Homo sapiens: one gene and its partners. The protein of the gene in region 2 interacts with the protein of the main gene of each other region in a pairwise test. Each region holds a gene or a part of one and is shown on either strand. Other genes may lie near its edges.

Region 1 (6,991 bases), on a different chromosome or scaffold from region 2:
ATCCAGTCACCCAACTAGTGAGCATAGTACCAAATACATAGTTTTTCAAGTCTTGCCCCCCTCCTTCTCTCCTCCTTTTTGGAGTCCCCAGTTACTGTTGTTCCCTTCTTTGTGTTCACATGTACCCAGTGTTTAGCTCCCACTTATAAGTGAGAACATGGTTTTCTGCTTCTGTGTTAATTTGCTTAGGATAAAGCCTTCCACCTGCATCCATGTTACTGCAAAAATCTTGTGCCTTTTCACAGCTGTATAGTATTCCATGGTGTATATGTACTACATTTTCTTAATCCAATCCACTACTGTTGGGCACCTGGGTTGATTCCATATCTTTGCTATTGTGAAGTGCTCCAATGGACATACAAGTGCATGTGTCTTTTTGGTAGAATTATTTATTTTCCTTTGGATATATACCCAGGAATGGGATTGCTGGGCTGAATGGTAATTCTATTTGTAGTTCTTTGAAAAATCTCCAAACTGCTTTCCACAGTGGCTGAACTAATTTACACTCCCACCAACAGTGTGTAAACCTTCCTCTTTGCTCCACAATCTCACCAGCGTCTGTGAATTTCTGACTTTTTAGTAATAGCCATTCTGACTGGTGTGAGATGGTAATGGTATCTCATTGTGAAATTCCCTATATTTTTATATGATTCTCAGGGGGTATCATGGGTCTGAATACTGACTCATGCCCTGGGCATGACTTCCACATTGCAGAATTGAGAAGTTGACCCAGAAATGCATTTCAGGCTGAGCAGACAATTATCAGAGGAGCTGGCTAGACCACAGCTGTGGTCAGATGTGTCATAGGGACCATGGCCTTTCTGTAGACTCATGGTCAGAGGTGGAGAGGAGCTGTGAACCTTCTTGTGAAAAAAGTCAAGGTGAAAGCTGCCCCGTGGTGATGGGCGCTGGGCCTCACCTACCACATACTGTGCATCTCCTGGCCTGCTGGGCTCAGTCCCCACCCCACTGCTTGGCACTCGACTGGCAGAATCTGAGTGATGCCTTCTGCACTCCCTGCCCTGCTCTGCCACTGGCTGTGTCTGAGCCAGAGGATCAGTGCTCAGCAGCAGACTCTCCCAAAACCCATCATCTGGGCTGAACCCAGTTCATGAATCCAAATGAAAAGCCGGTGACCATCTGTCACTGGGGAGATTCTGAGGCTGTTGAATACCAGCTGTACTTTGAAGGAAGCCTTTCTGCCATGGAGAGACCAAAACCCCCTGAATGGATTAACAAAGTTGAATTCCACATCCTACTCATGACCTTCCGCACAGCAGGGCTATACAGCTGCTTCTATCTGGCTGGGGAGCTCTGGTCGGAGCCCAGTGACTCTGGATCTGGTGGTAACAGGAGGGAAGATCCAGCCGCACACAGTGCAGATATGGGAATGTCCAGGCGGAGTTCCCCATTGGTCCTGTGACCACAACCCACAGAGGGACATACCGATGTTTTGGCTCCTATAACAACCATGTGTGGTCTTTCCCCAGTGAACTGGCAAAGCTCCTGATCATAGGTGACATTGAGAACACCAGCAGACCCCACCTCTTCTGGCTCTTGGGACACCTACCTTTTAACCAGAGACGGGACTCCAGAAAGACTGTGCCCTCTGAGACCACACTGCCCAGAATCTCCTTCAGATGGGCCTAGCTTTCCTTGTCCTGGTGACTCTGGTGTGATTCCTAGTTGAAGACTGGCTCAGCAGGAAGAGGACTAGAGGGCGAGCCAACAGAGCTTCCACTTGGGATTGCGGCAGAAGGTTGAGAACACAAAGACCCCTTGAAGAATGACCAAGAAACGCAGTGGCCATGGGTGGAACTGAAAGCCGATCTTGAGCCTGGGCATTGGGAGCTCTGTGTTGGGAGAAGGGAGTCATTGTAGGAAAAAGGGACAGTGGTATTCCATTTGTCAAAGCATCCTGGAGGAGACAGGAGGTGGGAGAAACAAGCTAAATTTCTTTGGGAGGCAAAAAAAAAGAAAAAAGTTGTTTTAAAAACTCAGCTTAAGTATCCCTTCTTTGGAGAAGAAAGGTCCTTTTCTCCTACAATGTGGAATATATGTGTATATATATACACACACACACACACACACACACGCATATATATACACACATAAATAAATACAAATTATTTGTGTGTATATAAATATATATATGTATGTATTTATGTGTATTTACATAAATAAAAGCATGGTCCTTACCAAACACAATCATCTACTGACCCATCTGTATCTTTCACTAGGATTACGAGGGCAGGGATTTGGTCTTTTACCTCTATAACTGTGGCATCTACGCATTGTGTGGCATGTAACAGATTTCTAACAAGTATTTGCCTTTTGGAGGAAAAGGGAGCTGTTGCTGTTTTTAAACTTTGGCCCAGGACAGGTGGTCTTTATTATTCAGAACCTAAGAATTAAAAAACCCATAATTTATCAAAAACAAACTTTTGAAGAAACACTAGAGTAAAACATTTGTGTGTGTGTGTGTGAGTGAAATATGCAGTTAGTATTGTTATAAACAAAGTCCAGGACTCAACGAAAGGAATAAAGTAAGAATAGAATTGAAACATGATGCATGTTGTAATTATTCCCTAAACTACAGTAACATGATGTTAATTTTTTTTTTTTTTTTTTTTTTGAGACGGAGTCCCGCTCTTTAGCCTAGGCCGGATTGCAGTGGCGCAATCTCGGCTCACTGCAAGCTCCGCCTCCCAGGTTCACGCCATTCTCCTGCCTCAGCCTCCCGAGTAGCTGGGACTACAGGCGCCCGCCACTGCGCCCGGCTAATTTTTTGTATTTTTAGTAGAGACGGGGTTTCACCGTGTTAGCCAAGATGGTCTCGATCTCCTGACCTTGTGATCCGCCCGCCTCGGCCTCCCAAAGCGCTGGGATTACAGGCGTGAGCCACCGCGCCCAGCCACATGATGTTAATATTTTCCTCAAAATAAACTCAGAATTTAACATAGTGTTCTTCCAGACGAGTGTGAAGGAAGGCAGGTGTTTTCCCAATGCTGTTCTCCTTGGGAGCTGTCAGCTTCAGTGCAGTATTTCACAGCTAGACTGTGAACAAACGTTAATTCCAATTGGCTCAATATACATTCAACAGTAAAATACCAGAAGTGAGTGGTCTCTGTTGTTCTCCAAAATGTATGATCTGGAACAGACTTTTATCGTGAAAGTGTTCATAGTTTGCACACATCACTCCCAGCTGGAAGTTGTTGTCCAGTTTAACAGTTATATAATATAATCTTTTATGTGAGAATTTTGAATAGCACAACAGAGACAAGAAAACAGACTAACTTCTCCTTGGTATGACCACATCTTGGCAAAAAGTGAAAGTCCTATTTAAAATGTAAAGGAAATCCTATTTGGTGAACCCTGTAATAGGTGGGGGCTAAAAGGGAAATCTAGGTTGCTGGATTTGTCACTAGGGTTTCCTCTAGTAATAGCCAGAGGGTTCCAGTTAGTGTCACCTCCCAGTATGAAAATAAATTTTCTTTCAGGCTTTGTTTGTGGAGTGGTAGGTGGAGCATTTTTTTAGGTCCTGATGACCTGGAAGGTGACTCATAATCACCCTGAAACGTATGAGGACCCTAAGGAAACCTCCCCTGGGGGAGACAGAGGGCTGGGGTTAGAGCCATTGCGTTGGGCTCGTCTGGCACCTTCTGGTGTGTGCGGCACCTGGTGGGGGTTCGGCACGGAGCCGCACCCAACACTGACCCGGGCCCCCCCACCCCTGTCCTGAGCCCAGGCGCTTCGCCCTGTCCCACCTAGCTCTGAGCAGCGCCCCCCAGCACCCTGAATGCGTCCGCAGGACCCCGCGCTCTACCCGCAGGCCCCGCACCCCCTAGCTCTGGGCCGCGCCTCACATCCCTCCCAGAGCCGCAACACCCCACCCGGCGGGACGCCCTCGAGCAGCCGCTCGTTGCGGGCCTGAAGCGCAGAGCGCCTATTGGCCAGAGCGGCCGAGGGCGGGAAAAGTGGCCAACGGCTGCCTCGGCCCTCGGGCTGCTGAGGAGATGGCGTCGGGCTCCAAGGCCTCGGTGCCCGCGGACTCATTCCGCACCATCAGCCCGGACAGGCGAGGCGAGAAGTCCGCCTCCGCTGTCTCCGGGGACACGGCGGCCGCGACCACCCTGAAGGGCACCGCGATCCCAGTGCGGTCGGTGGTGGCCTCCCCTCGCCCGGTGAAGGGGAAAGCGGGCCGGGAGACGGCCAGGCTGCGGCTCCAGCGCCTGCCCGCGGCTCAGGCCGAGGACACGGGAGAGGCGGCGGCGGCGGCGGCGGAGGAGCCCCTGCTGCCAGTGCCTGAGGATGAAGAGGAGGCGCAGCCCCTGCCCCCAGTCTGCGTGTCCCGTATGAGGGGGATGTGGCGGGACGAGAAGGTGTCGCTGTATTGCGACGAAGTGCTGCAGGACTGTAAGGTGAGCGGATCCGGGACAGGAAGACTACGGTCGGAAGCTCGTCGGAACCTGGGGACAGGCATCTGGGGCTTCCCTCTTAGGCGGATGGGGATCCACAGGGCACAACGAAAACTTGCGTTTCAAAAAAGTAAATGGAGTCAACATGTATAGAGCGTTCACCTTGTTAGAGGTGCCCGCGTCCTGCCCTAGAGGAGTTAAGGTTCGAGTTTCCGACAAAATTCGTCAGGTAACGGGACAGCCCTGAGAGAGAATTTTCTGAGAGCTCCTAAAAAATGAAGATATATTGGCCTTATCATTGCACAGGCATGAATCTTGGTACCTTTATTTAACAGTTTATGTCCAAACATGAGTAAGATCACTTAGCCTTGACTTTTACACTAGAATGCTAGAAATTACTTTAAGGGTACTTCCCACTCAGCAGTCCACAATGCGGCATGATATATATGTGTGTGTATATATATATATAAATGTGTGTGTGTGTGTGTGTGTGTGTATATATATATATATATATATATATATATATATATATATATATATTTTTTTTTTTTTTTTTTTTTTTTTTTTTTTTTTTTGGAGACGGAGTTTCATTCTTGTTGCCCATGCCGGAATGCAGTGGGGCAATCTCGGCTCACACAACCTCCGCCTCCCGGTGCAAGCAATTCTCCTGCCTCAGCCTCCCGAGTAGCTGGGATTACAGGCATGAGCCACCACGCCTGGCTAATTTTGTATTTTTTTTTAGTACAGATGGGGTTTCTCCAGTTGGTCAGGCTGGACTCGAACTCCCGACCTCAGGTAATCTGCCCGCTTCGGCCTCCCAAAGTGTTGGGATTACAGGCATGAGCCACCGTGCCTGGTGGCATGACTTTCTTTTATAGAAAATACATATCTGATAAAACGGAATAGAGCAAATATTTCATGTTTCTAACCTATTTTTTTAAGTTGTAGCAGAAGAATTTGTGTACCTGCATATTCACTGCAGTGATATTTATAAAAAGTTGAAAATTAAGACATAAACAATAACTAGCTGTCTTATCTATGAATTATTCGAGTGAATAGATCTCTTTTAAGTTTAATTTTTTGTTGGTGATGTTTTCCACTAGATGCGGTTTCAGTTAAAATCTGTAATTTTCCAGGTCATTCATTATTTAAGGCTATATTGGTTCCATTTTAAAATAGAAATCAGTAAAAAAAAAAAAAACCACTTAGTTTAAAATCTATAATTTCATATATTTATATGTAGATCCATTTTTTCTCTTGTTAGGCAGAAGATGCTGATGAAGTTATGGGTAAATACCTATCAGAAAAATTAAAGTTGAAAGACAAATGGCTTGGAGTCTGGAAGACTAATCCCAGTGTATTCTTTGTGAAATATGAAGAAGCTTCTATCCCTTTTGTTGGTATATTGGTTGAGGTAAATAAATTTTATTTGATCTTTGTTCTTTTTGAATCAGTTCTTTTAAAGACTAAAATATGACTTTATTATTTGGAGATTGATACACAAGAGTTGACACATTTTTACTTCTGTTTTAAGTTTCCGAGAAAATTAATAGTGTAAAAAGAAGGTTAGGGGAATATTAGTGCCTGTAAACCATTATCATTAAATGGAATCTAGTAGTATCAGACAATATTTATTAGCCTAGTTTTTGCTCAACTAATGTAAAAATAACAAAAATGCATTTCTTATAAAATTAGTGATTCAGTCTTTAACAAACTTGGGCCTTCTTTTTCTGTCTTTTCCCTTTAATCTTCATTTATCTGAATTAAGAAGTTTAGTTCAGATGAGGAAAAAAAAAGAAATGGATCAGAAAACTACTGGGAAAATTTGAAATTTTTTTCCTTTGAAAAGTACCCTTTTTAGGGAGGCTGAGGCAGGAGAATGGTGTGAACCCAGGAGGCGGAGCTTGCAGTGAGCTGAGATCATGCCACTGCACTCCAGCCTGGGCAACAGAGTGAGACTCCGTCTCAAAAAAAAAAAGTACCCTTCTAGTATAATATCTTCCAAGCCTTTATCTGATAAGATTTTTCTTTTTTTTTTCTTTTGAAACAGAGTTTCGTCCTGTCGCCCAGGCTGGAGTGCAGTGGTGTGATCTCGGCTACTGCAACCTCTGCCTCCCCGGTTCAAGCGATTCTCCTGCCCCAGCCTCCCGAGTAGCTGGGATTACAGGCGCATGCCACCATGCCCAGCTAATTTTTTGTATCTTTGGTAGAGACGGGGTTTAACCCTGTTGGCCAGGCTGGTCTTGAACTCCTAACCTTGTGATCTTTAGCAGAGAAGGGGTTTCACCATGTTGGCCAGACTGGTCTCGAACTCCTGGCCTCGTGATCTGCCTGACTCAGCCTCCCAAAGTGCTGGGATTACAGGCATGAGTCACTGCACCCGGCCCTAATAAGATTTTTCTTTGTTAGGCCTGTAGGCTAAACATTGTGGCATGTTTGATTCTGTTAAAGGTCAATTATCCTTATATAGAAATTAATATTTATAACCACAAATGATACCCTTACCCCAGATAGTTAGTTTAAATCTGTATTTTTGGATACAAGAAAAACTTATGTATGTAACTTGTTGTATT
Region 2 (6,346 bases):
GCCTCCCAAGTAACTGGACTACAGCTGTGCACCACCACCCCTGGCTAATTTTTTTTTCTTTTTTTCTTTTTTTTTTTGAGACGGAGTTTCGCTCTTGTTGCCCAGGCTGCAATGGTGTGATCTCGGCTCACTGCAACATCTGCCTCCGGGGTTCAAGCAATTCTCCTGCCTCAGCCTCCCAAGTAGCTGGAATTACAGGCATGCACCACCATGCGTGGCTAATTTTGTATTTTTAGTAGAAACAGGGTTTCTCCATGTTGGTCAGTCTGGTCTCAAACTCCCGACCTCAGGTGATCCGCCTGCTAAAGTGCTGGTTTTACAGGCGTGAGCCACCGTGCTTGGCCTCTGGCTAATTTTTTGCAGAGACTGTTTTACCATTACAGGCATGGGCCACCACACCCTGCAAAAACTGGAAGTTCTTTTTCACCCTCTAGATCCTGCTATCTAGTGTTAACCATTATTAACCAGTACCAGTGAATATTTCTTCTTCTAGATGTTTAGCTCTGCCCACATAAATATCTCACATGCATAATCTTTTCTCTGCAAAAATAGAATCTAGGTATTCTTTTTGATAAAATATGTTTTTGGATTTTTTTTCATACTAGCACATCTAAATCTATCCTGATCTTTGTAACATCTGCATGCTGTTTAATTGTATGGATGTACTATAATGATTTCTGTTGTGGTGGTTGTTGTTGAAATAAGGTCTTGCTGTGTTGCCTAGGCCAGAGTACAGTGGCGTAATCATAGTTCACTGCAACCTCCAGCTACTGGGCTCAAGTGGTCCTCCTAGTCTGAGCTTCCTGAGTAGCTAGGACTACAGGTGTGTGCTACCATGTCTGCCCAATTGAAAATTTTTTTGTAGAGACGGGGTCTTGCCATATTGCCCAGGCTGGTTTTGAACTCTTAGCCTCAAGTGATCCTCCTCCTTGATCCTGTCTTGGCCTCCAAAAATGCTAGGATTATAGGCATGAGCCCTGCACCTGGCCTGCATAATGATTTTGACCAGGTTCCTATTGATTGTGTCAAGTTGTGTCAAATCTCACACTACTATAAGCAATACTGTAATGAGCATCTTCCTCCATGTCTCTTTTTACCTAATCCTGAGTATATCTATTCTATGGTATAAATTCCTAGAAGTAAAATAGCTGTGTCAAAGGGCATGCAAATTTTTTGTTTTTATTTATTTATTTTTGAGACGGAATCTTGCTCTGTCACACAGGCTGGAGTGCAGTGGCACGATCTCGACTCACTGCAGCCTCCGCCTCTAGGGTTCAAGCAGTTCTCCTGCCTCACCCTCCCGAGTAGCTGGGATTACAGGCACACGCTACCACACCCGGCTAATTTTTGTATTTTTAGTAGAAACGGAGCTTCACCATGTTGGCCAGGCTGATGTTGAACTCCTGATCTCGTGATCCACCCTCCTCGGCCTCCCAAAGTGCTGGGATAACAGGCGTGAGCCACCGTGCCTGGCCCAAATTTTTTGTTTTTATAGATATTGCCAAGTTGTCTTCGAAAGAGTTTATACCAGTTCATGCTCCAGTGCTAGTGTGTAAGTGCCTCTTTTCTCATGTCTCAGCTCTTGGGTGTTCTGATGCATAAAAATAGTATCTCAAATAGTGGGGTTTTTTTGTTCGTGGTTTTTGTGTGTGAGTGTTTTTGGTTTTTGTTGTTGTTTTTTTGAGACAGGGTCTTACTCTGTCAGACAGGCTGGAGTGCAGTGATGCAATCACAGCCCACTGCAGGCTCAAATTCCTGGGCTCAAGCAGTCCTCTGCCTCAGCCTCCCAAGTAGCTGGGTCTACAAGTGCACATCACCACACCCAGCTAGTTTTTTAATTTTTCTTTTGTATAGACGGTGTCTCGCTATGTTGACCGGGCTGATTTCAAAGTGACCCTCTCACTTTTGCCTCCCATAGTGCTGGGATTACAGACATGAGCCACTCTGCTGGGTCTCAGATGGTATGGGTTGTTTGTTTGAGACAAGATCTCGTTCTGTCACTCAGGCTGGAGTGCAGTAGCATGAACACAGCTCACTGCAGCCTTGACCTGCTGGGATCAAGCAATCCTCCAGCTTCAGCCTCCTGTAAATCTGGGACCACAGGTGCACGCCACTGCACCTGGCTAAGTTTTTTGATTTTGTGTAGAGACAGGGTCTTACTTTGTTGCCCAGGCTGGTCTCGAACTCATTTCCTGTTTCATTTACTGAAGCGATCCTCTCGCCTCAGCCTCCCAGAGTGCTGGGATTCCAAGCATGAGCCAATGCACCTGGCCTCAAATGGTGGTTTCATTTGCAATTCTTTACTTATGAGTAAGACTGGACATCAAGAATAGGGCACTCCCAAGTCTAAAGCCCTTTGGTTAGAATAAGTGCCCTTTTTTTCCCCTTCAGCAAATGCAATGAAGTCAGAGTACTTGACTCTCCAAGAATGCCACTTTTCCTCATAACTTCCTTATCACAGCTATCATCTCGAAGGCACCTATTTAACCACTGACTGCAAAACAAAGAAGCAGTAGAATTTTTACCGTCAGTCACAGAATAGTTTCTGCTACTGAAAACTTTCTGATGCTTAAAAAAAAGTGTCTTAAAAGTACATTTGTGGGCTGGACGCGGTGGCTCACACCTGTAATCCCAGCACTTTGGGAGGCCAAGGTGGGTGGATCACAAGGTCAGGAGTTCCAGACCAGCCTGGCCAAGATGGTGAAACCCCGTCGCTACTAAAAATGCAAAAATTAGCTGGGCACAGTGGCAGGCACCTGTAATCCCAGCTACTTAGGAGGCTGAGGCAGGAGAATCGCTTGAACCCAAGCGGCAGAGGTTGCAGTGAGCCAAGATCACGCCACTGCATTCCAGCCTGGGCAACAGAGTGAGACTCCATCTCAAAAAATAAATAAATAAATAATACACTTGTGGACTGGCGCAGTGCCTCATGCCTGTAATCCCAGTACTTTGGAAGGCCGAGACAGGTGGATCACCTGAGGTTGGGAGTTCAAGACCAGCCTGGCCAACATGCCGAACCCCAATATCTACTCAAAATACAAAAATTAGCCAGGCATAGTGGCAGGTGCCTGTAATCCCAGCTACTTGGGAGGCTGAGGCAGGAGAATCGCTTGAACCCAGGAGGTGGAGGTTGCAGTGAGCTGAGATCGTGCCATTGCATTCCAGCCTGGGCAACAAGAGCGAAACTCCGTCTCAAAAAAAAATACACTTGTGTTAAGTAGAGCAAAATTCTTGCTTTGCATAGCTGATTGCGATGGCAGAAAACCATTCTCCCTCACGATGGGAGAAAGGGGTCTGTCCTAAAGGGATTCTGAGGTCATGGTTTCTCTGTTCAATCCCAGAGCAGAAAGGGGACTGTGTCAGCAAATGAAAAATGTGCTTTTGTCTTCCTTTGTTTTTCAAAAGGTGCACTCAGCTAAACACAAAAGTGGCCAAACTCACCAACGAGCTCAAAGAGGAGCAGGAAATGAACAAGTGTTTGCGAGCCAACCAAGTCCTCCTGCAGAACAAGCTAAAAGAGGAGGAGAGGGTGCTGAAGGAGACCTGTGACCAAAAAGATCTGCAGATCACCGAGATCCAGGAGCAGCTGCGTGACGTCATGTTCTACCTGGAGACACAGCAGAAGATCAACCATCTGCCTGCCGAGACCCGGCAGGAAATCCAGGAGGGACAGATCAACATCGCCATGGCCTCGGCCTCGAGCCCTGCCTCTTCGGGGGGCAGTGGGAAGTTGCCCTCCAGGAAGGGCCGCAGCAAGAGGGGCAAGTGACCTTCAGAGCAACAGACATCCCTGAGACTGTTCTCCCTGACACTGTGAGAGTGTGCTGGGACCTTCAGCTAAATGTGAGGGTGGGCCCTAATAAGTACAAGTGAGGATCAAGCCACAGTTGTTTGGCTCTTTCATTTGCTAGTGTGTGATGTAGTGAATGTAAAGGGTGCTGACTGGAGAGCTGATAGAAAGGCGCTGCGTTCGAAAAGGTCTTAAGAGTTCACTAACCTCACATTCTAATGACCATTTTGCCTTCCTGCTTGGTAGAAGCCCCAACTCTGCTGTGCATTTTTCCATTGTATTTATGGAGTTGGCGTATTTGACATTCAGTTCTGGGGTAGGTTTAAGATGTTAAGTTATTTCTTGTAACCTCAAAGGTAAGGTTATCTAGCACTAAAGCACCAAACCTCTCTGAGGGCATAACAGCTGCTTTAAAGAGAGGTTTCCATTGGCTATTAAGGAGTTATGAAAACTCCCTAGCAATAGTGTCATATCATTATCATCTCCCCCTTCCTCTGGGGAGTGGAAGAATTGCTTGAATGTTATCTGAAAAGAGGCCTGGTAGTAAACCAGGCCCTGGCTCTTTACCAGCAGTCATCTCTTCTTGCTCTGGGGCCAGCCAGGAAAAACAAACAACCCGGGGCACATTGGGTAGACTCAGTGTAGGAAAAATGGTGGCAGCTCCACTGTTTATTTTTGGTGACTTCGTACATCATTATGAACCGCAATTAAGGAGGAGGCTTAATGGCTGTTCCCAAACTCAAATCTCAGAGTGGGTATCCTAGCATCTAGCAAGACTGAGTGGGGAGATTTCTCATCCGTGTGAAAATGTAGAGTGAGGCCTCTGACTAGCTAATTGTGTATTTTGTTGGGTTTAGTATTTTCTAAATGTTTACAAAATATTGGGCTGCATGTTCAGGTTGCAGCTAGAGGGAGCTTGGGCAGATTTTCAATTACGCTTTCAAGATATAACCAAAAGCTGTTTCTAAATCCTAAAATTAGAATTTCAACAGAGCCCCCTTTAGAACAGTCATATAACGCTTGTGTGGGCCAACAGAGGGGCTGTGTACTCTCTCTGGAACCATAAATGTCAAATAATTTATAACCTGCAGTAATTGAGCAAACTTAAAATAAGACCTGTGTTGGAATTTAGTTTCTTGAAGAGGTAGAGGGATAGGTTAGTAAGATGTATTGTTAAACAACAGGTTTTAGTTTTTGCTTTATAATTAGCCACAGGTTTTCAAATGATCACATTTCAGAATAGGTTTTTAGCCTGTAATTAGGCCTCATCCCCTTTGACCTAAATGTCTTACATGTTACTTGTTAGCACATCAACTGTATCACTAATCACCATCTGTTTTTGTGGGATGTGCTGCAGCATTTCCCAAAAAACTTTACGTGTAATGTTGCAAAATGAATGTACTCAGACATTCTTAATTTTTACTTAGGGCAGACCAACTCTTTGAGTCTCTCTTGGACTTATATATACAGATATCTTAAGAGTGGGAATGTAAAGCATAACCTAATTCTCTTTCCTATAGAGATTCTATTTTATTTAAAATCTATTTTTACACTAGTTAGAATCCTGCTGTTTTGGCCAAGTACTTGTCTTGCATGTCTGACCTTGCAGAAGCTGGGGTGGATCATAGCATACTAATGAAGAGAATTAGAAGTAGTTTACAAAGCTCGCTCACTCCTCATTTCTCTGTGATCCCTTCTATCCAGTGGCCCCACCACCACCTGGGAAAACAGATTTTTCAGTACAGGTGGGATAAATGCTCTGAAAGGCTGTGCCCAGAGGAATGAGCAAATAGGCAAGTGTTTCCAAACTACTTGGAGGTTTACAAAAAATATGTCCCAGAAAAAAAAAAAATCTTACCAAGATACGTAAAGAAAAAAAAATTTTTTTTTAAACAGTCAAAGAGTCATGTTTGAATTTCACAAAATCACATCAGACAGAAGTTGTTTTCTTCAGGAGGGAAATGAACCACTTAATATACCCATACTACCTTGAACAATGAAATTGAATTAAAATAGCCAAACTTTGAAATTATTCTGCCCCGTGTGAAATGTGTGTCTCTGACTGACATTTGCTTGGGAGCATGTCTCTAATAATCTAAGAAAGTGTCGGCTGGGCACAGTGGCTCAGCGCCTGTAATCCCAGCACTTTGGGAGGCTGAGACGGGCGGATCATGAGGTCAGGAGATCGAGACCATCCTGGCTAACATGGTGAAACTCCGTCCCCACTAAAAATACAAAAAAAAAAATTAGCTGGGCATGGTGGCAGGCACCTGTAGTTCCAGCTACTTGGGAGGCTGAGGCAGGAGAATGGCATGAACCCGGGAGGCAGAGCTTGCAGTGAGCCGAGATTGCACCACTGCACTTCAGCCTGGGTGACAGAGCGAGACTCCATCTCAAAAAAAAAAAAAAAAAAAAAAAGTGGCCTTGATTTAAAAAGCAACGTAAAAATCAGCCCCTTGGTTGGGTGCGGTGGCTCACATCTGTAATCCCACCACTTTGGGAGGCTGAGGTGGGAGGAATGCTTGAGGTCAGGAGTTCAAGACCAGCCTGGGCAAC
Region 3 (7,035 bases), on a different chromosome or scaffold from region 2:
CATGGATATGCAGTAATATATTTCATTAATAGAAAACGAATAATGATTATAAGTATACACTCCACTGAAATAAGAGTTTATTCAATTTCTGGCTTGAAATAGGTTGAAATGTCTTAAAGTTTTTATATTATATAGATTGTTACCCACATATTTTGAACATACATACAGCATAGGATAGTCTAGCTATATACCCATTTCCTCAAAATTAGAACCAAAAATAACTACTAAAGTAGGAAATGTATTGTTACTGGGGAGTAGCAAGAAATACTCCAAATACTTCAAATGTGAAAAAGAGAAAAACGGAACTCTTTCGGGGGGAATGGAGTGTCCATTACTTTTTACCTTCTCCAGTTCTAGAATCTGTTGCTTCTGCTCTTCATCCAGACTTTGGGTTTTGCTTCGCAAAAAAGCTCTTTCCTCTTCAAGTTGAGATAATCTCTCATTGACTCTCGATTTTTCTGATTCTAAATCTTTAATTGTAACTTCCTGGGTCATTTGAGTTGCTTGAAGCATTCCAATATGACCTATCCCCCAAAAAGAAAATCCCTTCAATTTAAAAATCAGTTGTACTATGAGATAAACAGTTTACATTTAATAACACAACTGTACTTTATACTTAAGTAAAATAAATGGTCTACATGTACAAATTTTCCTTTTGTTTCTTCACTACATAAAATGGAAATATTTACATGAAAATACTTCTTAGCGCACTAGAATAATTTAAATTAAAACGTCATTTTCACATGATTAATGTTGCTTCCTGCACCTCGTACCGTTTTACTGGTTTTTTTTGTTTTTGTTTTTGTTTTTTTAAGATTGCAAGCTAAACAGGTTGAAGTAGGCGCAACTCCTCAGTAGGCTTCATAAGAAAGTCTCCTGGGAATAAAAGAAGGACGGAGAGGATGCACTGACTGACACTGTGGCGCCAAAATGAGTGATTCGTTCTTTTCTAATTTATTTTCAAATTCTAACATAAAAAGGAAGAAGTTTGTATGTAGGAAACAAAGATGGCAGATAGCAGTTTGGTTGAAATTGAATTTGTTTCAGGCAAGAGGCCAGATAAAGACCTAAAGTGGAGCTTGTAGTTCCAGCTACTTGGGAGGTTGAGATGGGAGGATTGTTTGAGCCCAGGAGTTCAAGGTTGCAGTGAGCTATGACTGCACCTGTAACAGCCACTGCACTATGTCCTGCAACATAGCGAGACCTCATCTCCAAATAAAAACAACCAACCAACCAACAACTAAGGTGATGTAAGACACAGATAAAGACAGCAAGGTTATGAAAGAATCTCTTAAATGACAGCAAAAAGCAGGGAAGGTGGAGAAAAATGAGGAGAGACAGAGAGATGAAAAGTGAGTGAAGAAAAAGGTCTCATAGAAAGGATAGTTTAAGGCAGAGGTTCTCAAAGTACCCAGGACCAGCATCACCAGCATCACCTGGGAACTCTGGTTAGAAATGTGACCCACCCCAGACCTAAAAGTGAATCAGAAACTCTGAGGGTGGGGCCCAGCATCTGTAGTTTCACAAACCCTTCAGGTCACTCCAATGTGCACTAAAGGCTATTAAAAACAACTATTTTAGAGGAAGGAAAATCTGAGATTCACTGATAAGCCAATCAAAATCAAATGAGATCCTCAAAGAACCAGCTCAAACAGCCTTCCTGGGCACACTAAACACTTAGACAAAATATAACTTCAGAACTGACACAAGTCACCCACTTCCTCCAGTAATGGTTGTGAAAAAGCATACCAGCCACTTGAGAAATAGGCAAGTCAGCTTTAGTATGTAAAAATGAACCTTAGTAACAAGCCCTAAGAAATGAACTGCTGTAATTTACAAACTTCAACTAATTTGAGCACTTTAAAATGTGTATTTTTTCAGTGAGACCTCATCTTTAAAAAAGTTAGCCCGTGGCATACCTAGAGTCCCAGCTACTGGGAAGGCTAAGGCAAGAGGATTACTTAAGCCCAGGAGTTTTAGGCTGCAGTGAGCTATGATCAGGCCACTGCACTCAAGCCTGAGCAACAGAACAAGATCCCATCTCTAAAAACTAAATAAATGCTGGCATGGTGGCTCACACCTGAAATCCCAGCACTTTGGGAGGCCAAGGTGGGAGAACTGCTAGAGCCCAGGAGTTTGAGGTCACCCTAGGCAACATGGCAAGACCCCGTCTTTACAAAAAATTAAAAAATTAGCCAGCCAAGGTGGTGCATGCCTGTGGTCCCAGCTACTCAGGAAGCTGAAGTGGGAGGATCACTTGAGCCCAGGAAGTCCAGGCTACAGTGAGTTGTGTTCATGCCACTGCACTCCAGTCTAGGTGACAGAACAAGACCTTGTCTCAAAAAATAAAATAAAATAAAATGTATATTTTTAAAGGACAACACCTCTTGAAAAGTGTGCTTCATTTTTCGTTCTTTCTTTTTTTTTTTTTTTTTTTTTTTTTGATACAGCCTTGCTCTGTTGCTCAGGCTGAAGTGCACTGGCGCAATCTCGGCTCACTGCAACCTCTGCCACCAGGTTCAAGTAATTCTCATGCCTCAGCCTCCTTAGTAGCTGGAATTACAAGTGTGTACCACCATGCCCAGCTAATTTTTGTTATTTTTAGTAGAGATGTGGTTTCACCTCGTTGGTCAGGCTGGTCTCAAACCTCTGGCCACAAGTGATCTGCCCACTTTGGCCTCCCAAAGTGCTGAGATTATAGGTGTAAGCCACCATGCCCAGCCCGTTTTTCTTTTAGTGACTACTTTATTGGTATTTTACCTGCTATTGGTATTTTTCCTCACAAAGGAAAACTCTCAAGTTTTCTATAAAAATATATTCCTAAAAATAAAAAATATTTGTGTATCTTATAAGTAATTAGTAACATATTGAGTCCTTTAACTTATTTACAGTCTAAATAGTTTTAAAATGTTAGAAGAAAAAATAAATGCTACCTTAAATTAACATTTAAGTGTTGGGGCCGAGCGTGGTGGCTCATGCCTGTAATCCCAGCACTTTGGGAGGCTGAGGCAGGGAGACTGCCTGAGCTCAGGAGTTCGAGACCAGCCTGGGCAACACGGTGAAACTCCATCTCTACTAAAAATACAAAAAAATTAGCCAAGCATGGTGGCGGGCACCTGTAGTCCCAGCTACTCAGGAAGCTGAGGCAGGAGAATTGCTTGAACCCAGGAGGCAGAGGTTGCAATGAGCCGAGATTGAGCCACTGCACTCCCGTCTGGGCGACAGAGCAAGACTCTGTCTCCAAAAAAATAAATAAATAAAGTGTTGATTTTAGCTAAGCATTACATCAAAAACTGTGGTCACACATACTAGCTTTGAGGACAAGATCTGAAGCTTGCTGTTGTAAACGTTCTCTGGCAGCTGCTAGCTCACTTTCCACTTCTTTGTGCTTGCTTAATAGGGCCATTTCTCCCTCCTTGGCATCATCAAGCTGTTTTTGAAGAACCTAAGAAAGATTAAATAGCCATTGTTAAAATGCAGGAATAATACTAAGCTAAATAATTCATTTAAATTATAAGGGTCAGCTTTCTCTTATTCAGAAGTCATACTAAACTATATACCAATTTTTAAATCTGTAAGTATTAGTGATTTATAACTTGATGTTTTCATAAACATGACCCAATCAGGAAAGGCTATTCCACACTTTCTAATCCATTCTAATGTTGCACAGATATTAAAAACATGGCTATGAAATTTTCTAAGCCAACAAAACAAAACTTGTGGACTTCCGGCATTTTTTTCCCCCAGACTTGTGCAATACCCCTATTAAATTCAGGTTTAGAAAGCAAGCAATTTCTTGATCAAATTCTAAATATCAGCTAGCAGGCAAACCATTATTAGTGAAAGGAAAAGAAAAAAATGTATTTAAACTTTAAGCCCAATATTAAAATCCTTTTGTAAATAATTAGCAATATTGTCCGCCCCCCCCCCCAGGAACAGCGTATTACCTCGCTAAGCTCACTCACCCAGGCTGGTTTCTAACACCTGGCCTGAAGCGATCCTCCTGCCTGGGCCCCCCAAAGTGCTGGGATTACAGGTGTGTACCACTGTGCCTAGCCAATAATTAGACAAGGTTTTAAGCTTGTCTTTTTGGGCCCCTAATATCTGAAAGTCTGAAATAACAACTACAGGGTAATACAAATTATCCTGTCATTGATTTTTCTCACAAAGGAAAAGCAGGAAAAGTTAAAAAAAAAAAAAAAAAAAAGTCTAAGTGGTGTGAAGCCACTGATTCTAAGTGGGCCAGACTGCTCTCCAGCCTACAAAACAAATATTTTTAAAAGAAAAAAAATCCATGTGTTGAATATAATATTCTTTACTTACCTGAACATTGTTCTCTGCTATGGCAAGTGCCGTCTGAAGCTTTTGGCATTTGTCAAGAAGACTTCCAGCTTCATCCTGTACCATCTGTAACTCTGTCTTTAATTTTCCTATAGTTTTTCGTAAAATTGCTTCTTGTCCCTGAAATTCTTTTCTAAGATCAGCTTCCTTTTCTTTGCTGGCCTGTAGGCTTTCTGCTGTAAAAAGCTGTGACCTTTTCAAAGTATCAAGCTCACGTTCATAAAAGGACTGAGCTTTATTCAACTTGCCTTCATAATCCTCAATTAGTTTCTTCCGTTCAAGTCTTAGCTCCTCAAGCATTTTGTTTAGGGACTCCACCTCCATTCTGTGTAGTTCCTCTGCCTTTTCCTGGCCTTTATTTACTGAGGCACTGTGATCCTGCTGTGACTTCAATAGCTCTTGTATCTCCCGTCTGTGAGCAGCTTGCAAGTCTTCCAATGCCAATCGTTTGTCTTTTTCAAACTGTACTTGAAGTTGTCCAAAGCTCCGTAATTTTTCTTCAAATTTCCTTCTAATCTCTTCGACTTCTCTAGACATGGTCACTATGCGTTGGACATGCTGGGCTTCTGCACAAAGTTGCATGTCCTCAACTCTGTGCTTATAAGCTTCAAATTCTGTCAAAGCCTGCTGCTTCATTTTTATGTGATCTTCTAATGATGATTCTAAAACTTGAATCTTTCTTCTAAGGTCTAGCTCCTCTGTTACTTTGCTTTTATACTGCAATATTTTTTCTCTTGTTTCAGCAAGAATTTGTTGAATTTCTTCTTCATGAGCATCTTTGAGGGCTTGAATTGCAGATTCATGCTCATCATTTTTAGTGTTTAAAGCATATATTACCTGCATGGTTTTGAATAAGAAGGGAGAAGGATTGTGAATCCATATTATTTTCTAACTTGAAGTCAATTCTTTCATTTGGATTGATATTTTTCTATGCACATAATATTGGCTACAGCTAATGTTAAATATGGAATCTTGATGCAATTGTTTTTTTACTCATAGATTGATTTGCTTAGCAAATTTCTATCTTAGCACAGTCTTAAGATTTGTATTTAAAGACTTTTTAGTTATAATTTTAAAACATTCAAATTTAAGACTATTTTTTACTACAAATGAAACAGCAAAGAGGAAATGGACAAAGGAGGCAATTGGCCTAAGAGAAAGGAGTTCTCATATGTCCCAATCTAGCTTACCGGGGACTGTGAAGGGGTGTTCAGGAGAAAAAGTCTCATAGTAAGACTCTGCCCTATATTGGTGTCCTAGAGATACGAGAGGCTTCACATGAAGAGAAGCCCTAGGCCCTAAGTCTTCCCAAAAGCCTTTTATCTTTGTAATGGCCTGTTTAAATATTTCAAATTTTAAACTTTCCTTTCCCAATTCCCCTATAGTTTGCTTCTAAAGCTGATCCTCTTCTCTCTTCAAGTTTCTAGTGATCTCTTTATAAAATCCAATTTGTACTTTTTCTCTTCATATTTCAAATGCTGTAGTTTTACTCTTTGGCTAATTTTCTCTCTGCCTCCAAGCAACCCAATTCCTTAAGCCAGAGTTTTGAGTACAGGTCTTTATTTTCATTTTAGTTCCTAGGTTTTAATGATTTCACTGAGATGTCCCAACCTTAATTTCAAATGACAACAAATTCCCTGCACAGTAACACTCTCCTTCCTTCCCTCTGTTCCTCGGATGCCATCCATCATGCCACTGTGGTCACACGGTGAAATTTTCATGACTGTTATTTAAGGCTTTGAGATGAGCCCACTTTCTTCCCCCGGAAGCGAAAAGAAGTAAACACTGTACAATCAAAAAATCCAGCAGCTAAAAATCAGTGTCTGGAGATTTGCTCATTTTAATGTGATATTACTCTGGCTTTAGAAATGAATTCCAGCATCAGATACCAGAAACTGCAGTTATGATGGAAAACTGCTGCCATTTTTTGTAGAGAAATTATTCATGCAGCCTGAGGTAACTGTGGCAGACTGGCTGGCTCTCCAAATACCACAGTAACTCCAGATCCCACTCGCTAAAGATAGGCTGTCACTGTCTGGGACAGCAGTTGTGCTTGCAAAAGAAACAAGAAGGCTGCCTCAACACAGGGGCATCACTTTCTCCACATAGGGCTTTGTCTTCCAGATCCAGTGGCCCTGTCCATATACTCGCTTAGTCTGCCATCATACCAAAGGTAAAAAGATTGAGAGATGGCAGGAACCCATCTGTCTTGCCATGCTATCCCTTTTTGCAAAGTCTACAGGAAAAAATGTGAACAGAAGTACTTATTCACATTCTGTTTTTAAAAAACCCTAATTTCAAATTCCAAATTATGTTCCCAATAAGGTAACACAGATCCCAAGCAGGACTCCTTCATTTACACATTTACTCATAAAGGTAGCTTATAAGCCAAGAAAGCTGACTGACTTCCTATTCCCATCCCCTTGGGTCATATCCGCCCACCAAGTCAAATGGCCATAAAAGACTGAAAGGATCTGTGATATAACAAGTGTACCAAAAATATAATTCTAAGCCCCCAACCGATTGAACGGACCCTCCTCTTAGCCAAGTGGACCCCAAAGAAACCTGAAAAAATAGTTTAGGCCATGACTGAAAGGGAGGGGTCAGACATGCCTCATTATGGATTGGACATGCTGGGCTTTTCTGCACTCTATACTTCGGGATTTAGACACAACTGACCGACGTTAACATTAA
Region 4 (5,296 bases), on a different chromosome or scaffold from region 2:
TGCAGTTTAAACCACTGGCAGGACAGGCATGGTGACCCACGCTTGTAACCCCACCAATTTGGGGCACTGAGGCGGGTGGATCACCTGAGATCAGGAGTTAAAGACCAGCCTGGCCAACATGGTGAAACCTCATCTCTACTAAAAATACAAAAATTAGCCAGGCGTGGTGGAATGTGCATGTAGTCCCTGCTACTTGGCAGACTGAAGGCAGGAGAATCGCTTGGACCCAGGAGGTAAAGTTTGCAGTGAGCCGACATCATGCCACTGCACTCCAGCCTAAGCAACAGAGCAAGACTCCATTTCAAAACAAACAACCAACCAACCAACCAACACTGGCAAAAAAGAGATTACTAGAGATGTCATTCCCCTACATTAACAAATAGTACATTGTTACCATCTTTTACTTAGAACCTTAAGTAAAATGGGACCCATTAAATCTGATGACAAATTAATACTTCATTCAAAGCACAATAGTTTTAACACATTAAAAACAACTTTGTTTAATGAAAAAATTAAGTTGACACATAATCTTTAAAAAATTTTTAAATTTATTGCATTTTATTACATAAACGTACAATTGATAAAAAACAATCTCTCCTATCTCTGATGAAACAACTGATCAAATACTTTCACAAACAATGGGAAGAGTCAACATGACGGAATCTGAGACTTGAGTTACATTATTATTTGCTGTTCAGAAACTATTTTTTTATAGAAGAAAGAAGCATACCTCGAAGGTAATTATGAATCTCGAAAAAAACTACTTCTTTAACATGTATATGGTGTTAGCTTTGGATCTCTTTTACACTCAACCCTCTGATTTAGTGTAATGTATGAAGTTTCAGTGCCTTCATTCTTTCTACTGTGACCCCTCAGATGCTTATATAGACTTAATTTTTGATTTAATATGTTTTCCCCATTTACTGGTTCTGCAAAAATATTTAGTACAAACTGGTGTTTTCTAAGCTGGAGGTTTTGAAAAAATGTTTTTCACATTCATTACATGTTTAGACTTTCTCTCCAATATAAATTCTCTAATGTTCAACAAAGTTTGAGCATCTTCTCAGATCTTCAAATTTTTCCTTTAATATAAAATGTGTACAATAAAATCTGTAATGGAAGTAAAGGTACAGCAATCCTCTTTAAGTTTGTATGTTTGTCTTCAGAATAACTGGTCTTTACTTTAAAGGCCTATATTTTCCAAAAGGTCTTTTTACAGTAATCACATTTATAATTTTTTTTTTGAGACAGAGTCTTGCTCTGTCACCCAGGCTGTAGTGTAGTGGCTCTATCTCAGCTCACTGCAACCTCTGCCTCCCCGGTTCAAGCAATTCTCCTACCTCTGCCTGCCAAGTAGCTGGGATTACAAGTGCACGCCACCACACCCAGCTAGTTTTTCTATTTTTAGTAGAGATGGAGTTTCACCATGTTGGCCAGGCTGGTCTTGAACTCCTGACCTCATGATCCACCGACCTTGGTCTCCCAAAGTGCTGGAATTATAGGCATGAGCCAACACACCTGACCTATAATCCCTTTATTAAGTATAAACTTTCTGATATTGAGTAAGATGTGACCTGATATTAATGGTTTTTCACATTCTTTGTACAATTTTTCTCTAGTATAAATGCTTTCCTGTACCATAAGGTGTGAGAATTTGTTAAAAGTTTTGCCACATTCTTCATATTTGTAGGAGTCTTCTTCAGTATAAACTATCTTACCTACCATAACGTGTGACTACCATTTAAAGTCCTTGCCACATTTAACACATTTCTAGAGTTTCTCACCAGTATGATTTCTCTTTTTTAGAAAAGTTTGAGGTGTGCTTAAATGCTCTGTCACATTTTTATGTAAGCAGAGTTTCTCTCCAGTATAAAATTTTTTAGTGAGTAAGCATGGAGAACCAGTTAAAGGGTTTGCCACATTTTTTTCTGCAATTGCAGGGTTTCTCTCCAATATCAATTATCTTACATTTATTCAGGTTTGAGGACTTTTTAAAGACATTACCATATTCCTTATTGTAGGGTTTCTCTTCAGTATTAATTCTCTTATGTATAATAAGGGTTCAAGACTAGTTAACAGCTTTACCACATTCTTTGCTTTTGTAGAGTTTCTCTCTAGAATGAATGATCAGATAATATGTAAGGCCTGAGATGTGCTTAAAGGTTTTGTCACTTTTTTTATGTTTCTAGGGTCTCTGTAATATAAGTTCTCTTAGGCTTTGGGAGGCTGACAAAGGTGGATCACCTGAGGTCAGGAGTTCAAGACCATCCTGGCCAACATGGTGAAACTCTATCTCTACTAAAAATACACAAATCAGCCAGTGTGGTGGCACACGCCTGTAATCCCAGCTACTCAGGAGGCTGAGGCAGGAGAATCGCTTGAACCCGGAAGGCAGAGGTTACAGTGAGCTGAGATCATGACACTGCACTCCAGCCTGGGTGACACAGGGAGACTCCAACTCAAAAAAATTTTTTTAAAATAAATTCTCTTAGGTTTATTAAGGTTTGAGGGTTGGTTAAAGGCTTTGTTACATTTTTTTACATTTATAAAATTTCTGTCCAATATGAATTCTCTTACATTCAATTAAGGTTTGGAACTGGTTAAAGGCTTGGCCACATTCTCTACATTTGTAGTGTTTTTTTCCAGTGTAAATTATTTTATGTATTATAAGGCCTGAGGGTGGACTTTGCCATATTATTCACATTTGTAGGGTTTCTCTCCAGTGTGAATTATCTTATGTTTAGCAAGACTTGAATGCCACTTAAAAGCTTGCTCACATTCTTCACATTTGTAGGGTTTCTCTCCAGTATGAATTCTCTTATGTTGCATAAGGGTTGAGGAGCAATTAAAGGCTTTGCCACATTCTTCACATGTGTAGGGTCTCTCTCCAGTATGAATTCTCTTGTGGTCAGTGAGGGTTGAGGATAAGCTAAAGGCTTTGCCACATTCTTCACATTTGTAGGGTCTCTCTCCAGTATGAATTCTCTTGTGGTCAGTGAGGGTTGAGGATAAGCTAAAGACTTTGCCACACTCTTCACATTTGTAGGGTCTCTCTCCAGTATGAATTCTCTTGTGGATAGTAAGTGCTGAGGAGCGCCTAAAGTCTTGGCCACATTCTTCACATGTGTAGGGTTTCTCTCCAGTATGAATTCTCCTATGTCTCATAAGGTTCGAGGATAAGCTAAAGGCTTGGCCACATTCTTCACAGGCATAGGGTTTCTCTCTAGTATGAATTCTCTTATGTCTAGTAAGGTTTGAGGACCAGCTAAAGGCTTTGCCACATTCCTCACACCTGCAGGGTTTCTCTCCAGTATGAATTCTCTTGTGGTCAGTGAGGGTTGAGGATACGCTAAAGGCTTTGCCACATTCTTCACATTTGTAGGGTCTCTCTCCAGTATGAATTCTCTTGTGGTTAGTAAGTGCTGAGGAGCGCCTAAAGGCTTGGCCACATTCTTCACACGTGTAGGGTTTCTCTCCAGTATGAGTTCTCTTATGTCTAGTAAGGTTTGCAGACCAGCTAAAGGCTTTGCCACATTCCTCACATCTATATGGTTTCTCTCCAGTATGAATTATTTTATGTGTAGTATGGTTTGAGGAGCAGTTAAAGGATTTGCCACATTCTTTGCATTTGTAGGACTTCTCCCTAGTATGAATTACCTGATGTTGATTTAGGTGTGAAAGCATGCAAAATGATTTGCCATATTTGTTACATTTGAAATGTTTATTTCCAGTATATCTTGTTTTATCTCTATTGGAATTTGAAAATTTACCAAAGACTTTGACATATTTATGAGTCTGAAATATTTTGTTTTGGGTAGTTGACAAACATTGGTTAACTTCACTATAACCTCCCTTGTGCACCTCATATTCACCCACACTTTTACAGCATTTTTTAAATTGTAATTTCTCATGTCCACATTTTCCATATGTTCTTGGTATTACTTTTTGGAGTGAATCTTTGATGCCCTGCTCTGGCTGAAGGTCTTGGGTGAAATGGGAACGCGTAACTGAAAGACACAAAAAGCACAAGTTACTCCACTTTCTGGACTCATATAAATATATTCTACACATGAAATATATAAAATTACACAAGGTACATTAGCAAAATGCCATATCAAAATACCACAGGCCATAATTCCTTCATAGATGTATAAATGTAACAAAATCATAGTGATCAAAATACCTTTGTTGGAAATTTATAAATAAAGTAAGTGTGTGCACCATGTGAGCATGATGTCCAGAGCCATATAGAGAGAAAAGAAAAGTCTGCTACATTTACCCAACACAGCCCTTCCTCATGCCCAGTAGAAGAACATAGTGCCTTTAATAACAGCTTTAAGTCTTCTGAGCTCAAAAGTGAATGTTACAACTGCAGAAAGACTGCAGTATGATGGGCAGAAGATAGGTGTAGAACGTAGTTACTGACCACTAAGAAGAAATATGAAGAAGTCTTTTAATTGAAAAATAAATACAAATTGCAGACAAAACACATCCTGAGAACATGTTTGTGAGAATCCCAGAATCTCTACCAAAGACAATTGGTGTCATGCTATGACAGGAAGGAGCTGCATTATAAAGATCATGAAAGGTAGTTTTATGTTAGTGTCTAAATCTCAAACAAAGATTACAATGTATATAAAACATGAGGATAACATGGTCCAATCAAAAAAATCAAAAATTTTGAAAAAGCAACTATAAAAACAAAGATGTAGATCTTGATTTTTAAAATTTAAGATAATCCATATTATGCTCAATGAGAAAAATGGAAAACCAGACACCCAAATAAAATAAGAAAAATAAGAATACCAACAAAACTTGCAATAATAAAAATAAACAAGGTGGAGGTAAAAAAGAATAACTGAAAAAATTTTAAAGTAAGAAAAAAGTATGTAAAAAATGAAGAAGCTAAACAAACAAACTAGGATATACACAAAAAGATCCGCAACACAAATTTAAGCAAAGTTTCAAAAGTCACAAACCAGAAGATAATCTTGGGAGCTGCAAGATAAAAGTGAGGTATTATTTATAAGCATAGTCCTCTGAGACAGCCAGTGAATTTGTAAACAGAAACCTTGCAGGTCAGAAAAGAACTGTGTAAAATGGTCAAAGGCTGAAAAAAATTTTCATGGTGAGAATAATAAAACCAGAAAAATGTACTACAACATAAAGAAAAATAAAACTCTTCCAGAATGAATAAATGCTGGCACATAATCATTGTATGTGCCCTAAATAAAATGCTGAAAAGAGGTCTTTCCACTTAAAATAACATGATGAAAAATATATGTAATCATATGAA

The links.
Region 1: the proteins of BRAP (region 2) and SHCBP1L interact in a two-hybrid assay, tested with the Homo sapiens proteins (one study listed by BioGRID and IntAct).
Region 3: the proteins of BRAP (region 2) and FAM184A interact in a two-hybrid assay, tested with the Homo sapiens proteins (one study listed by BioGRID and IntAct).
Region 4: the proteins of BRAP (region 2) and ZNF479 interact in a two-hybrid assay, tested with the Homo sapiens proteins (one study listed by BioGRID and IntAct).

The regions. Positions count from the first base shown.
Region 1 is NC_000001.11:182,950,159-182,957,149, reverse strand, and holds the start of SHCBP1L (testicular spindle-associated protein SHCBP1L), read left to right. Parts: upstream 1-3,983; 5' UTR 3,984-4,016; coding exon 4,017-4,421; intron 4,422-5,160; exon of another isoform or gene 5,161-5,165; coding exon of another isoform or gene 5,166-5,213; intron 5,214-5,682; coding exon 5,683-5,832; intron 5,833-6,991. UniProt on the Homo sapiens protein: Testis-specific spindle-associated factor that plays a role in spermatogenesis. In association with HSPA2, participates in the maintenance of spindle integrity during meiosis in male germ cells.
Region 2 is NC_000012.12:111,641,622-111,647,967, reverse strand, and holds the end of BRAP (BRCA1-associated protein), read left to right. Parts: intron 1-3,405; coding exon 3,406-3,769; 3' UTR 3,770-5,822; downstream 5,823-6,346. UniProt on the Homo sapiens protein: Negatively regulates MAP kinase activation by limiting the formation of Raf/MEK complexes probably by inactivation of the KSR1 scaffold protein.
Region 3 is NC_000006.12:119,019,636-119,026,670, forward strand, and holds part of FAM184A (protein FAM184A), read right to left. Parts: intron 5,179-7,035; coding exon 4,324-5,178; intron 3,446-4,323; coding exon 3,310-3,445; intron 525-3,309; coding exon 343-524; intron 1-342.
Region 4 is NC_000007.14:57,117,146-57,122,441, forward strand, and holds the end of ZNF479 (zinc finger protein 479), read right to left. Parts: intron 4,008-5,296; coding exon 2,695-4,007; 3' UTR 531-2,694; downstream 1-530. UniProt on the Homo sapiens protein: May be involved in transcriptional regulation.